3 separate regions of the Homo sapiens genome follow, and all the other regions are linked to region 2. Evidence: fine-mapped expression QTL. A gene starts in region 2. Each other region holds a variant in brackets. All regions are shown on one strand. Distances are from middle to middle.

Region 1 (2,663 bases), 49 kb after region 2:
CAGGAAATGGAATTTGGATCCCAGAGATGCTCCAAGACTGTTCCTTGTGGTCCCTGCAGGATGAATCTCCTCCGAAACAACAGCTGCCTCTCCAAAATGAAGAATTCCATGGCTTCCATGTCTCAGCAGCTCAAGGCCAAGTTGGATTTCTTCAAAACCAGCATCCAGATTGACCTGGAGAAGTACAGCGAGCAAACCGAGTTTGGGATCAGTGAGTGTGCACTTTGCAATGAGTTTAAAGACACCATTTTTTTTTCTTTTTCTCTTTCTAAGGTTTCTTTTGTCCTATTATAATTGAGTTGCTTATTTCTGTTTCAGTTTTGTGGTGTTTTTATTTTGTTTTGTTTTGTTTTTCCTTCTCAATTTTTTTTCAGCATCAGATAAACTGCTGCTGGCCTGGAGGGAAATGGAGCAGGCTGTGGAGCTCTGTGGGCGGGTAGGAGACTCATTTTGGGTTTCGGAACTTACCAAGGGGGTGAGATTTTGTGCTCCCACTTTTCACTTTCTCATCAAACACTGGGTCGATCTCTGTCAAAAATCAGGTGTTCCTCACCATGCTTTGAGCTTAACTGGACCAGCTGAAAAGAGGCCAAGAGAGTAGCCAGTGAAGGGAGCCCCTCTGTGGCCAGATGCAAGAGCTGCATGAATGGACAGAGATGGTCCAGGTTTAAATAAGAAGCAAGGGTTAGGTTCCCTTGGGGAAAAGCCAAGACCATTTCCTGTTAGGAAGGGCATTGGATGGATGATCAACACTCCCTCTTGTCGAAGGTTTTTGACTAATTTTGTTGGGATGCTAAATCCATAGGAAATAAAAGGTCTAGGCAGAAAGTCTCAGGGCAGCGTAAATCAGATGTCACCAAAAAAAGTTAATTATGAAGGCAAAGGAAATACATGTGACTTAATGAACCTCACACAAACTGAAGGTTGAAGTCAGGCTCCGGGGCTTTTTCCTGGACTTATCCTCTGTTTTCCCCTGTGTACTTGGGCAAGGATCTTCACCTGTGTCTTAGTATCGATTTTTATGAATCAGTACTGATGGAGTATATGTGTGTTTAATGGTGAATATTAACCATAGAAGGGCTGAGTGCTCCTCCCCATCTTGGGACTCATAATCTGTGAAATAAAACAGTCTGGGCCTCCCTGCCCGGGTAGCATCAGGATAGACAGATGAAGAGAAGAGAAAGTAATGTGTCTTGGGCATCTTCTGTATGCCAGGCACCATGCCAGAGGCTTTAAGTACTTCATCTTACTTGACTCCTCAGATGGCCCTGTTAGAAGCCTATTTTATGCAAAAGGAAACTGTAGCTGGGGGTAAGTAACTTGCCAAGGGGTCACACAGCTAGAAAGCGGTGGACCCTAGATGCAGGCGCAG[C/T]CATTCAGACCCCACAGTCCACATTCCTTTGAGCCAGTCCATTGAGGGTCCTCAGGGAATGTGGCGGGTCCCCTGGTCTCGCTCCCCCGCAGATCTTGCATCTCAGCATGCGCCTACCACATCAGTTGACATTAGCACAGCTTTTCCATTAGGAGAACGAAGTGAAACTCCTGGTAGAACGGATGATGGCTCTGCAGACCGACATTGTGGACTTACAGAGGAGCCCCATGGGCCGGAAGCAGGGGGGAACGCTGGACGACCTGTGAGTACTGGCTGGGGGGCCCCTCTGTGCCCAGCACACACAGACAGCCCTGGAGCTTCGGTGTGTGTGTCAAGGGCACCCTCAGTGGCTGTGCGGGACCATTCTCTAGAGCATGCTTCCCTGTGGGGTCACTTCCAGCAAATCATCACTGAGCTTCAGTTTCCAAATCTGTTCAGTGACAAGAAAAACAGTCTTAAGTCACGAAGTTGTAAGGATGAATTCAGATAATGCATTTGAGACGCAGGCCATAATCTGTAAAGGCTGTAAAATGCAAGCAGCCTCTACCCCTGTAGCAGACTCCCCTGATTTGTTCCACCCACCCTGACTCAGGCATAGCTCAGAGCAGAAAGTAAAACAGAGAAGGAAGAACCTGATGAGGCTTAGGAGTTTGGACCTGGAAACTATTCGTTTGAGTCTTTGTCAGGTATTTGGCATTGGCTCCATGAGGGGCGGAGGGGTCTAGGCAGATCACTCCTACCTGAAGGAGATCACATGTGCTCCTGGCGTACAGATGGAGGGAACCAGGCAGGCCGCTTGAGGGCTGTGTCACCGTGAGCTCAGCAGTGTTCCCTGATTCTCTCACTAGGATTCTTAGGACAGGAGCTCCAAATGTCAGAACTTTGATTCTGTATTTTCTCTAATTAACCCTTTATTCTCCTCTAGTTCTTTTATTTGTATTTGTATTATTTTTTTAAGAGACAGGGTCTTGCCCTGTTGCCAATGCTGGAGTGCAGTGGCACAATCATAGCTCACTGCAGCCTCGACCTCCCAGGCTTATGCAGTCCTCCCATCTCAGCCTCCCAAGTAACCGGGACTACAGGCGCATGCCACCATGCTCAGCTAATTTAAAAAAAAAATGTTTTTGGCTGGGCACAGTGGATCACATCTGTAATCCCAGCACCTTGGGATGCCAAGGCAAGAAGATTGCTTGTGAGCCCAGAAGTTCGAGACCAGCCTGGGCAACATGGTGAAACTCTACCTCTACCAAAAAAATGTAAAAATTAGCCATATTTGACCTCAAGTCTAGAC
Region 2 (2,805 bases):
AGAGGGGAGAGGGGAGAAACCGAGCAGCCAGCGTGCCTAGCACAGCCCTGGACACCATTGACCCCTATGTTTGGGTTGAGATCTGTCCCTGAGTTAACTTCAACCCCAGGGCTGTCAGGCACTGCTGCTATCAATACCTCATTTGTCCCTCACAACAACTCTGGGGTGGCCTCCTTTCTATGACTTTCTATGAGCCCGCCTGTCCCCCTGCTATTACAATGAAGCAGATGAAACTGCTGATCTTTGTTACTGATGTTTTGGCTGTTTTCAATTTCCAAAAAATGACAATTAAATGCAATTCAACCTAATATTGCCTAAATTTTAAAAGAGGAAATAGGTTCTCACAGTGTTTAAGTAACCAGCCCCCGTGCCTCAGAGGTAGTCAACAGCAGTATCTGGATTCAAAATCCAGTTTGCCTCCTTCTGAACTTCTTAACATGCTACTTTTAGCCACGGATTAAGAACCCGGGAACCAGTTGCTAGGGTTTGAGTATCAGCTCATCTACGTAGCAGCCATGTACCTTGGAAATAATAATAATGCAGACCAGGTGCAGTGGCTCACAGCCTGTAATCTCAACACTTTGGGAAGCCCAGGCGGGTGGATCCCTTGAGCCCAGGAGTTGGAGACCAGCCTGGGCAACACAGTGAGTGAGACCCCGCCACCAGGTATGGCGGCCGCGCACCTGTAGTCAGGAGAATCACTTGAGCCCAGGAGTTGGAGGTTGCACTGAGCTGTGATCACACCACTGCACTCCAGCCTGGGTGACAGAGCGAGATAATAATAATAATGATGATGATGATGCAGTATTTTCCAATTTACAGGGTTGCCCTGAGGATTGAATAAGGAAATCTAAGTACAGAGATTTAGAACAGAGCCCTGCACTGTGTAAGCACTCTATAGATGTGAGCTATTATTATCATCTTCAGGTTCCTTTGGTAGTTTTTTTCTGCTTGAATAAAATATAGCAACACACACACACACCTCCTTTGTCCACTAATGTAATCCCATAAAACGGAGAAACTCAGCAGTGAGGACATTCTGATTCCAAGCAGGAAGGAGATGAACGATGAACCTCAGGCTGAGCGCCTCACGGTTTCCTCATGTCACCGGGGCTGGGGGTGCAGTTTGGCTTCACACTGCTAGGTCTTTTCTTGTTTTTAAGGGGGCAGGGGCTGTCACCTCTGAGGAGTCAGCTGTGATTGATCCTTCTCCACACCCAGCCAAGCACCCCCCAGACAGGGGAGCGCCCGCAGTAGGGCGGTAGGCAAGGGCAGTTCTAGCCAACAGTCCCTAAATCATCCCAGCGGGGGCGCGGGAAATTCCACCGAGGTGAAAGCCTAGGGGGCCGGGTGAAGAAATCCCCATACCCGGGCCCAGAAACCGCTCCAGGTGGAAGTAACTTGTCTAAAGAGAACAGGGTGTAACGGGGGTCATTTCAGGGCTGTTCTTTTAAATCGGTGAGCACGGTCTGTCTACTTTCCCTCAGTTGTCTAGAGACCACACGCCACCCCCGCCCCGGGGGAGTCGCCCGGTCGAGGGTCCCGGGACAGGCGCAGCACTCGCAGCATCCGGACCTGGTCTGCCTCGCGCCGGGAGCGGCCTCTTTAAGAGCGGCCGCGGCCAACGTGCTCCGTGACGTCAGAGCAGGAAGTGTTTGAGGAAGTCGCGCCGCGCTGCCCGCGTTAAGATTCCCGCATTTTAATGTTTTCAGGGGGGTGTCATAGCCCCGGGTTTGGCCGCCCCAGCCCCGCCTTCCCCGCCCCGGGGAGCCCGCCCCCTGCCCCGCGTCCCTGCCGACAGGTGAGTCCCCCTCGTGGGTGCGGCCCGGGTGCCACCTGCAGGCCCCGCCGCCCCGCTGCCTGCAAGGCCCGGAAGACCCCTCTGTGCCGCTGGGAAGTCGCAGCTTGCGGACTGGGGAGCGTTTCACTTGTGCGGGTTGGAGTTCGGGAAGCCGGGAGAAACAGCTCTCCCTGGGGTGGCTTCTTGGGGGTGGGTGGCTTTGAGGGGAACCTGCGATTTATGGGAACATTGTAAAGAAACACGTGACCTCGGCGATGCTCAGAAGTAGGTTCTGCCCCTGCCACCTCGGGCAGAAGGCGGGCAGGCCCGGGCGCCCCTGGTGGAGTCAGCTGGGGATCCCCTCGCTAGGGCAAGGGCGTGGGCATCGCCTCCCTCGGTGACTTTCTTCCTTGCCTGATGCCACAGCAACCGGATGGGGGAGGGTGAGAGGGACAAAAGTTTGCCACAAAGTTTGGACCAACCAAACACATTGGTTTCTTTACAAAATAAAAAACCAGTTGTATTTTTCTTCTCTCCCATTCAAGAGCAGTGGTATCTCTTGCCTTCTCCATCCCTTTGAGCTCCATTTTTTTCTTAATCCTAACCTTTTTTCCCCATCCCAAATTGCTTATAGAGTTAGCACGACATCAGTATGAGCTGGTCACCTTCCCTGACAACGCAGACATGTGGGGCCTGGGAAATGAAAGAGCGCCTTGGGACAGGGGGATTTGGAAATGTCATCCGATGGCACAATCAGGTAGGCCCTCTGTGCAGCTTGGGGAGGGGCGGGGAGCCAGGCCCCCTCCTCACTGCCTCCACTTTCTCTGATCCTGCTGGGCCAAGGGCTCACCTTTGGCTTTGGTCATCTTGGGACAGTGAATAGGGGGACTGGGAAGAGGGCTTCAGGACTTCTGAGCTGACTCCAGGTTAGTGGTCTCCATGCTTTATTGACTATGTCACCTAAATAAATAGTAAAATAAAGTTAAGCTCTTAGTCTCTATTATATATATATGGTAACAGTAGAA
Region 3 (2,805 bases), 130 kb after region 2:
GAGCCGAGATGCACTCCAGCCTGGGCAACAGAGCGAGACTCTGTCTCAAAAAAAAAAAAAAAAGTTAATTCCTTTTTTTTCCCCCTCACCCTCTCTTATGGTGCTGAAAAGTTAATTTCTTAAGAAGGTGATCTGGCTCTCAGATGCTATAATGATTAGTTCTGCTGCCTACTTGATTTCTTAGCCTCTGTAAATCCCCCAACTTCTTGACCTCAATTTCCTCGTGAAAAAAAGGGGGATTGTGTCATTTCCTATCTGCCTAATGTGGGTCCATGCTATCTGAAGGACGGAGGTTGCTAGATGAATGCAAAGTGACATTTGTCTCAGCCGTAACAACAGGTGTGTTCTTTTTGCCACACACTTCAGTTATCTTTAGGACAAATATTCTTTTCTTTTTTTTTTTTTTTTTTTTTTTTGAGATGGAGTCTTGCTGGAGTATAGTGGCACTATCTCAGCTCACTGCAAACTCTGCCTCCTGGGTTCAAGCAATTCTCCTGCCTCAGCCTCCCAAATAGCTGGGACTACAGGCATGCACCACCACGCCCAGCTAATTTTTGTATTTTTAGTAGAGACGGAGTTTTACCACGTTGGGCAGGATGGTCTCTGTCTTGACCTCGTGTTCCGCCTGGCTCGGCCTCCCAAAATGCTGGGCTTACAGGCATGAGCCACTGTGCCCGGCCAGGACAAATATTCCTACAAGAGGCTTGATTGGAATAGGGTTATTAAGAACTAATTTCATTTTTTCAGTATTGTCCTTCAAAAAAGCATGCTTCTCTCCATGATAGGTTAATAATGTATATTGGGGATTAATTCTTTGTGGCATTTGGCATTTGGAAACATTTAAAGAGATTTGGCTTCTTGTACGTCTGTATACATACACCTTCAGATTATTAATTTGGCACTGAAATATCTTATTCATTCTTTTTTTTTCTTTTGAGACGAGTCTCGCTCTGTCGCCAGGCTGGAGTACAGTGGCATGATCTTGGCTCACTGCAACCTCTGCCTCCCAGGTTCAAGTGATTCTCCTGCCTCAGCCTCCCAAGTAGCTGGGACTACAGGCGTGTGCCACCACGCCCAGCTAATTTTTGTATTTTTAGTAGAAACGGGGTTTCACCATGTTGGCCAGGATGGTCTCAATCTCCTGGCCTCGTCATCCGCCCACCTTGGCCTCCCAAAGTGCTGGGATTACAGGTGTGAGCCACCACACCCAGCCTCTTATTCATTCTTATACTTTTGTTCATGCTTTTATGAAATAAATCATGAAGTATCCTATCATTTGAACTTATAATGAGTAATAGATGATAGTAGTCTATACATGTCTAATCCTAACAAAATTATATTTGTAGAACTAGGTCATTTGAAATGTTTTTACTATATATGTGGCATGTACCAAAATA[A/G]TATTTACATTGGGAGATGAGAGAGAGGATCTTACTCTAAAAATTCCTAGACAGTAGTAAGAACTCATGTTGTTTTCATCATTTGCTTTTGTTTGTTTGTTTATTGCAGAAAGAAGAGTGGGAAATTGAAGGCCTCCTATAAACGGGATTGTTTTAGTGTTGGCAGTAATGTTGATATAGATTTTTCTGGACCAACCATCTATGGCTGGGCTGTGTTGGCCTTCGAAGGGTGGCTTGCTGGCTATCAGATGAGTTTTGACACAGCCAAATCCAAACTGTCACAGAATAATTTCGCCCTGGGTTACAAGGCTGCGGACTTCCAGCTGCACACACATGTGTGAGTGTTTATAATTTATTCCTTAGTATCAGTGCAGTTGCCCAAAATATTGTAGCCATTAGCATGCTGAGAAGTGATGGTACTCAGATTTAGCATGCCTTGGTGAATATCCATCCTTGCGGTGCTATCCTCATAGCAAAACCTTGCCAGGAGGCTGGTGCACGTGGTGTGCAGGCTGTGCTGCTGGTGGTCACTGGCCCCTCAGCCTGCACCCCAAACTTGAGGAAGCTCCAGCCTCTGTAGAAGAACCACTGGGATAGAGGGAGCCCAGAGCATGGCTTACCTCATGGTAAGATGACCCTTTGGAGATGTTACTGCTTCCTCTGCTGCCCTCTCATCTTGACAGTATCTGGAAGCAGGTCTGTTTTGGTCACCAACAACCACCACCAAATTGATCTGAGCATCCTGGGACATCCCGGTAATTCTGTGGAGGTTTCAGGTACTGGTATTCTCGGTTGGAACCCAGGTACCGCTAATGCATTCAGAAGTAACAGGTGCTCTGAAAGAGTCCTGGGATTCAGTTATGTAGGCTGCACCATGTTGGTGGGATGAATCAGAACTTTTACGTAGTATTTTATGTTGAGCCTACTGGACACTGCTACTATACCAGGAAGAAAAAGCAAAGGGCAAACTATGTGTTTTTAAACTGTTGCAGATTCCTCTCTGCTAGATGCTCTAATTTACTTATGATGGCTAAAACAAAGGCAAGCAGTGGTATAGACAGTTACTGAAATTGATGAAACAGTATTATCAGGAAAACCATGTGAAAACCCAAGGACTCACCTCTGGCATGCTTGGAAGCAATAACTAAGGTGGTTTTCTGGAGCAGTGCACCCTAGGTATCGTAGGAGGGTGCTTTCTAACTGTAGGATTGTGTTTTAAAGGAAATCCAGAATTGGTTTTATTCCTATACCTCTACCTTTTTATTTTTTTGCAGAATCTTTATTGAACTCTACTTTGAAGTTTCTAAGTTCTATGAACTTCTCAGAGACCTATAGATTATACTTACCCGAGGTGTCTGCCTTTGTGCTTAATTGAATTGTCTTAAGAAACTCACATCATGTGGAGGAG

Evidence for each region. PIP is the estimated chance that this variant, and not a neighbour inherited with it, causes the effect. A credible set is the group of variants that fine-mapping cannot tell apart.
Region 1: its variant is the best candidate, but not a certain one, in a credible set for the expression of IKBKB in whole blood (TOPMed, PIP 0.78).
Region 3: its variant is the best candidate, but not a certain one, in a credible set for the expression of IKBKB in blood mononuclear cells (TOPMed, PIP 0.50).

Annotation. Positions count from the first base shown.
Region 1 is chr8:42,319,211-42,321,873 of GRCh38, forward strand. IKBKB (inhibitor of nuclear factor kappa B kinase subunit beta) reads left to right here. Exons shown (of 22, transcript NM_001556.3): 14 at 60-211; 15 at 375-436; 16 at 1,525-1,634. Among named protein-coding and RNA genes, the nearest start is that of POLB, 18 kb to the right of the region's middle. The variant C/T (reference allele first, on the strand shown) is at 1,373.
Region 2 is chr8:42,269,669-42,272,473 of GRCh38, forward strand. It overlaps IKBKB (inhibitor of nuclear factor kappa B kinase subunit beta), which reads left to right and starts at 1,634. Exons shown (of 22, transcript NM_001556.3): 1 at 1,634-1,801; 2 at 2,415-2,537. The coding sequence starts at 2,433. IKBKB-DT (IKBKB divergent transcript) reads right to left here and starts at 1,582. Exons shown (of 4, transcript NR_185843.2): 1 at 983-1,582. RefSeq lists an enhancer at 629-1,128 and a silencer at 1,625-1,914.
Region 3 is chr8:42,400,282-42,403,086 of GRCh38, forward strand. VDAC3 (voltage dependent anion channel 3) reads left to right here. Exons shown (of 10, transcript NM_005662.7): 7 at 1,507-1,734. Among named protein-coding and RNA genes, the nearest start is that of VDAC3, 9.8 kb to the left of the region's middle. RefSeq lists a silencer at 900-1,119. The variant A/G (reference allele first, on the strand shown) is at 1,398.